Homo sapiens: one gene and its partner. The protein of the gene in region 1 purifies or fractionates together with the protein of each later gene. This does not show direct contact. Each region holds a gene or a part of one and is shown on either strand. Other genes may lie near its edges.

Region 1 (2,966 bases):
AGCCAAGCGTGGTGGCGGGAACCTGTAATCCCAGCTACTTGGAAGGCTGAGGTAGGAGAATTGCTTGAACCCAGGAGGTGGAGGTTGCAGTGAGTGGAGATCGCACCATTGCACTCCAGCCTGGGCGACAAGCGAAACTCTGTCTCAAAAAAAACAAAAACCAGAAGCATAAACGGTCACTCACCTCAAAGGTGCCAGCCTTAAGCAGGGTGACTTGGTCATGCTGAGAAAGGTCACGGAAGCCCGGGATGTGTTTGGCAAACTCTACCACCTCCCGCACAGCGGGCGTGAAGCTCATGGAGAAATCCTCCCAGATCTCCTGCACCGTTCGCCCACTGCGTCCATGCGGGTACATGTTCATAGGACATGCCTGGGGGAGGAAAAGATTGAAGGAGGGGAGTGTCAGCCAGGCTGGGTCAGATGGACGCCCCGAGCAGAGCTGGACCCCAGATTCTGCCTGGGCTAGGGGCTGTGGCCCTGAAGGATGGGTCTTTCAGATAAAGTAGCAATTAGGTGCCAGGTGGAGATTAGGGATTCCCAGGCAGAGTCCAGACTGCAAGGCAAGACATTTTCTCCTGGGAAGATGCTATCCCCACACTCAGCCTCCAGGAACCCCCAGCTGCCCTACACTAAGTCCATTCTGCCAGGCCCCCCCAATCTTCTTAACGCACTCGCCCGCCCCCATGCCCTTACCAGCAGAACATTCTTTGAGTTGCCCTGCCGGGGACTGTTGGCAGGTGCCTTGCCTTCTGGGGCTGCATACACGTGGGTGGGGCATAGACGGTGCCCGTTGCTGTTGGACTGGTGGCAGCTGTGGTGTGCAGGGCCAGGAGGCCAGGTGGGAGGGTAGGAGGAGGGAGCCTGGCGCAGACCATTTAGGGCCTCGTTATGACGCTGGGCAGCCAAGGTGTTGTTGTCATTGGGGGCAGGTGGGCAGCCCTGATTTTCCCAGCGATGTGGGGTGGTGGCTGGAGGGCTACCTGATGCATGGTTGGCATTGAAGTTGCCAGGTGAGCTGCCCAGCTTGTCATGGGCGTAGGTGAAGATCTCTCGATGGGCCCGGGCCACCTGGGATATCACATCCTCCACTGTGGGCTCAGGGCTTGGGGATCTGGGAGGCGTCAGCTGTTGTGGAAACTGGGAGAAGCCCACCAGGGGTGAGGGGACCGGAGCAGGGGGTGGCGAGGGGCCCATGGGGCCTGGGGTGGGGTGCTGGGTGGGTGAAGTCTCCAGCGGGCACTGGCTGCTCAACTGGTTGTTGGCCAGGTTCATGGCACTCTGCATCTCAGCAAGCATCCGCTGCTTCTCTCGTTTGGGGATGCGCCCAAAACGCACAGCTGCAACAGGATGAGAACAGCATCAGGAAGTTCTCAACCATGCTCACGTGCTTCTCTTCCTTCCTTCCTCCTGAAAGGGCAAGGCCCTGAAGGCTTGGGGTTTCACATCAAAACTAAAACCAGCAAGTCCCCACCCATCAAGGGGGTTTCCCTAGGAGGGATTGCTGGTAGGAGGTGACCCGAGGGACCAATGGGATAGAAGTATATGTTGACCCAAGCAAATGAAGGATGGACATCCCCTGGCACATGTGATTCACAGTATGATGTGTCTCCATTTGTGACTTTTTTAAAGGGAAGGATTAATTCAGAAACTTTGGGCGGAAGAAGGGGGGAGGATGTGGGGATGCTGCCTCACCGTCTCGAGACATGCCCACAGAGAGACACTTCTTGAAGCGACATTGCTGGCAGCGGTTGCGATTGATGCGGACGATGGAGCAATTCTCATTCTTCAGACACCTTTTGTACTGGATGTTCTGCTGGATGCTCCGACGGAAAAAGCCCTGGAGGGCAGGGGTGGTTAGTGACCACCTCCATCATGGCTGGGCCTCTGTGTCCAGGGGGAGGGGGCCACCTGCCCCTGCCCTTACCCCCAGTCCGCCTCACCTTGCAGCCCTCGCAGGCGTGCACACCGTAGTGGAAGCCCGAGGCAACGTCCCCACACACTTTACACAGTAACACCATGCCATTCAGCTCTGTGGAAGAGACGGGCAGCAGGTGAGCAGGAGAGGCCAGGCTGAGTGGCCACAGGTGTGGAGGCTTTCTGGGCCGGAGATCCAGGGAGGGAAAAGCTAAGGAGGAACTCCAGTGTTGAGGGGCACTGGAGTGACAAAACTGGGCTGAAGAGGGGCTGGTGCCACTCTAGGAGAAATCCCTGAAGCCAGAATAGGTCCTGGCAAGACTGGTGTCACGTAAAAACCCATTCCCAATCTGGCCCTGGCCTGCTTCCCTTCCCCCGAATCAGCTGGAAAGGTACTCACTGGTGATGTTGCTGGTGCTCTTGCTGGGGGACACTCGGCTGCTGTCCTCCATGGCCACTTGTAGACTCCCAGGGGGGCTCCCATTATAGAAGGAGGAGGAGGATGACGACGAGGAAGATGAGGAAGAAGGGGAGCCGTCATCACTCAGGCTGGGTGGAATGCTCCCAAAGGAGCGAGCCGGGTCTTGGGTGAGGGAGCCAGTGGGGGATGGTGGGAAGTAGGTGGGACAGCCTTGGGTCAGGGACTGGAAGCTGCCATTGGAGTTGTCACTATAGAGGGATTCAGGGCTGGTGCGGCTTGGGGAGGAGCCACTGGAGCCAATGTAGGTGATGACGCCACCTGGAGAGAGAACAAAAGGAAAGGGGGTGTCAGCCGCCATGTCTCCGGACCTAGGGTGCCACTGTGCTCATCCCCACCTGTCTGCCCAAAACATTGCTGGCCACTCAGTTCACCATGTGGAGCCCCTAATCTTGGAGTTAATAAGCAATTCCCCAACACACAGTAGACATGGCATGGCCAAGCAACACCTACGACCCTTTGCAGGCCACCTTCAGCTTCTGCTTTCAGTATGAGGCATGACCCCTGTGGCATCTCGCATATGTGCCCCCCTTCCTTAGTTGCCTTCCTTGGGAATATCGACTGCAGCTAATGA
Region 2 (4,083 bases), on another chromosome or scaffold:
CCCTGGGGGCAGGTGCTGCAAGTTTGGTCTCTTGGTGGTCCTCAGGAAGCTTGTCTGCCCTTAAAATAACAAGTCTGGAGAGTGCCTCTTCCTCCAGGAAGCCTTCCCTTCATATTCTATTCTCATCCACCCCTCTTCATGAGCTCCTTCTCACTTTATTATGCTGTACTACACATCTCTGGAGATGAGATATATCAGCCTGGGCGCTGGGTCCCTGGAAATTGGCACAGCGCATGCTGTTGGCTGGTACTGCTGAATGAATGCTATTCCAGTCCTTACCCAGACCCTATCCTGACTCTAACTCCTGAACTGCTATCAGCTCTGAGCCTGGCCTTTCTTTACACTCATGCTTCAACAATTTGCACTGCTCCTTGGTGACAACATGCATTCACTACAGTCACATCCAGCCCCACCTCCAGTCCACTTGGAAACTGGTGTTCCATAGGGTTTGCCCTGCCTGACCCTAAGCCCCTTTGCAGGGCTACCCCTTGGCTCTGGCAACAGGAGGCTGAGTTGTTTCTCCACCATAAGGTCAGCTTTGCATGTACCCAGGACACAGGCACATTCTCTTGTCCAGGGCAGGCCTTTGCAAAATAGCTGGAGTTTGGGCTCAAGCAAGGACCACAAGTCAGAAGAGACAAGAAATGTCTAAAGAGGGATTCACGTGCCTGGCTTCTATCAGTCTGACGGACCAGGCAGGTTGATGGAAGAAGCTCTCTGGGTCCCTCCCCAAACAACATTTAATACGCAGCTGAAGGACTGAATGACAAACTTTATTAGAAACGCTCTTCATTCATCAGTCAAATTCACATTAAGGTGGGGGCAGTGGGGTGGGGAGGAAGAGGCAGTGCTGTCTGGGGCTCTGATATCCCACTGCTGTGATGATTTCCAGTTAAAAATGAGTCTGGGCAGAGAGTGTCTGAAACATATAAGAGGTGGCAGCAGCAGTGGCGGCGGAGGCAGCAGCAGCATTCCTGCGAGAGGACCAGGCTCGGAGCAGGTAGAGAATGTGTCTCCCATATCCACCCTTCCAGTCACAAGGCTGCCCCCATGGACCTCAAGCTGATAAATAAACAGCACATCACACACACATTTGAAACAGGAAACAAACTTGTAGAAGTCTCCTAAAGTGAAAAAATAATTTGCTCAAATAAAGCTTTGTGACAGCCATGCCGCACCCTGAATGGACGTTGCCCAGAGACCCTGACACTCCAGGAAGGCCCCCCAACCCAGGACACATCAGACTTGGGTGTCACAATGCCCCCAGTTCCCCCGTTAGCACCTTTGGACTAAGTACTGTCCTCTCCGCATTCCTCTTTTAAAATGCAAATGCTACTTAAAATAATGGTAAGGATATGCTCTTCCCTGGGGCAAACCAGTCAGACTCATCTTCCCTGAAGAGAGGTGTCTGGGCATCCAGAGAACTGTGAGTCAGTGGCTGGGAAGGGGAGCACGTGGAAAGGGGTAGGTAAACAACGTTCAAAGAGGTAAGCCGGAAGGTGTCTCCACACTGCACTGTCCACTTGCCAGGTCTGCGGTTGGGCCTCCTGGGAACAGTCTCTCAAAGTGGCACAGAGTCCTAAAACGGTGTGACAATCCTGCCGCCCTGGCAAGGCGTATGGGCCAGGAGGGGCACGGCGTCAGGCTTTCATCATTCATTATTCAGAGGCAATTTTCCCCCTGCACTGGCTAATTTCTCCCTGGCCCTGTCTGCAACGGGGCACACAATAGAAAGTCTCCTGCCTAAATGTTTTATTCATTCTCTTGAATAAGGAAACAGGCTCTCTGATCAATACGGTGGCTGCTGTGTCCTGGTTGGTGGCAGGATTTCCAGGAGGTGCAGACTCCAGGCTCTCTGTGGCTCCGAAGGAGGTGTCTGACTTGGGAGGGCTGCCTCGAGGGCAGTAGATACTGTTGGCAAGAGACCTTTCGTTTCCAAAGTTGGTACCACATCCTGGTCTTTGAAAGAACTGAGTGTCCTGGGGAGCCAGGAGAAGGGTAGATCCTTTCCCCTATGTGCCATGGGACTGTGAATGACAGGAGGGTCGGGCCCTGCGGTGTGTGTCTGTGTCTGTGCTGCCCATCAGGCTTGGCTCACTGGTACTGCAGATAGTTTTTGAGAGACTGAGGCAGGGGCAGGGAGCTGATGTCCTGCAGGCGCTGGCGGCCCAGGGCCGAGCGGATGGATCTCCGGCACAGGTCCATCAGTGGCAGGGGCTCGGCTGCAATGAGAGGGAAGCAGTTAGAGTGTGCCCTGTGCCATCCTGGCACCTTCTCATCCCAGCCCCCACTGCATACCGCCTCCTGCCTGCTCCTCTGAGCTGGCCTTCAGGGTCAATGGCTTCTCCTTGGAGAAGATTTCTCTGGTTACATAAGCTGAAGGCCTAGAGGAGTGTTCATTAGACTGTGGAATGCAACCAGTGAGACTAAAGAGTCACAAAATCAATTCAATGGGTGGTGACCAGCCATAATTTTTTTTAAAAAAAGAGAAAATGGGAGCAATACCCATAGCAAGGATAAATATTGTTTCATGAAAGCCTTGTCTCTGGTCTCTGATGTAGGTGTTCAGCGTGTCTTTTTTTTTTTTTTTTAGATGGAGTCTTGCTCTGTCGCCCAGGCTGGAGTGCAGTGGCACAATCTGGGCTCACTGCAAGCTCCGCCTCCTGGGTTCACGCCATTCTCCTGCCTCAGCCTCCCTAGTAGCTGGGACTACAGGCACCCGCCACCAGCCCGGCTAATTTTTTGTATTTTTAGTAGAGACGGGCTTTCACTGTGTTAGCCAGGATGGTCTCGATCTCCTGACCTCGTGATCGCCCTTCTCGGCCTCCCAAAGTGCTGGGATTACAGGCGTGAGCCACCGCGCCCGGCCTGGTGTGTCTTAATGTGAAAAGGACTTCTCACTTCAGGTCATGATGGAAAATGTTTAAAAGCTGGTGGCCTTGGGTGGATCTGCAGAGGGGTTTCCTCTACAAACAGGTTAGATTCTGAGAGGCTGTCTGAAATGCCTGTGAACCCTGAAACTTCCCCTATAGCTTTCCTTGATGGTCAGCAGCGGGTTACATTTTCTTCCAGCACCTAGTTCTGGAAAAATTTGTAAGTTAAAATCCATAAATAATGGAACCACTGGACATAGGACCAGTTAAACCAACTTTAACTAGGTTTATTGCAGACCCCCTTATTAAGCTCTTATTCTGGTCCAGGCCCTTTGATTAGCCCTGGGGATACAGGGATAACTAAGCTAGCACCAGAGGCAGCTCTGGAAGAGGGTGGGGGCAGGTAGGGGGGTGGTGGAGGCTCATGATCTGGGATTTTAAATAGGTGAATCATTTTAATAGAGTGTAATATATGCAATAATTCTTAAATATACAGGTACAGAAACTGGGAATTTCTTATATAGAAGAGCTGTTTGAAAGCTTCACAGAGAGGACACATAATGGGGTTTTGAAGAGTGAATAGGAGGGTTAAAGGCACATAAGGGTGGGGAGGGTATCCTAGGCAGAGAGAACAGGCAAAGGCAAAGGAGGAATAAAACAGGACAGCCTGGAGGTTTGTGGGGAGAGGAACAGTGCTGATCAGTTAGCATCAGCTGGAAGGAAGATGATGATGGTGGTCACATGGCATCTGGTATGGTTTGTACAGGCCTGGTTTCCCCAGTCCTCCAGGAGTATGCTGGAAGCCTGAACCTGCATCTTAATACTTTTTTGGTAATAGAATAAATGATATTTCATAAACATCCTATAATGTACTAAGATACAACAAAACTGTTGAGTGGTAAATACTAACACAAGAGTTGTGATAGGAATAGTACCACAGAGAAAGGCCCTCTACAGATCCACCCGAGGCCTGCAGCTTTCAAACATTTTTTTATCACAACCTGCAGTGAAGTACTTTTTACATGGGAATGTAGTCAAGAGTCGAGAATATGTTTTATAGGAATTTTTATTTACCTGAGCTGCAGAGTTAATAAGGGGAGCCATTAAAATTAAAGTGGGGCTTGGGGAGCATGCTTTGGAAGCTGTGCACAAGAGTACATCCAGCTCTCCTTCACTTGAGGCCAGATCCCAAGGCTATCTGCAGGGAGCA

What was found.
Region 2: the proteins of NR1D1 (region 1) and SPSB4 purify together in Homo sapiens (affinity purification with western blotting; 2 studies listed by BioGRID and IntAct, with this or other methods). This does not show direct contact.

The regions. Positions count from the first base shown.
Region 1 is NC_000017.11:40,094,751-40,097,716, forward strand, and holds part of NR1D1 (nuclear receptor subfamily 1 group D member 1), read right to left. Parts: intron 2,654-2,966; coding exon 2,315-2,653; intron 2,030-2,314; coding exon 1,941-2,029; intron 1,838-1,940; coding exon 1,693-1,837; intron 1,338-1,692; coding exon 694-1,337; intron 371-693; coding exon 185-370; intron 1-184. UniProt on the Homo sapiens protein: Transcriptional repressor which coordinates circadian rhythm and metabolic pathways in a heme-dependent manner.
Region 2 is NC_000003.12:141,145,281-141,149,363, reverse strand, and holds the end of SPSB4 (SPRY domain-containing SOCS box protein 4), read right to left. Parts: intron 2,223-4,083; coding exon 2,095-2,222; 3' UTR 753-2,094; downstream 1-752. UniProt on the Homo sapiens protein: Substrate recognition component of a SCF-like ECS (Elongin BC-CUL2/5-SOCS-box protein) E3 ubiquitin-protein ligase complex which mediates the ubiquitination and subsequent proteasomal degradation of target proteins.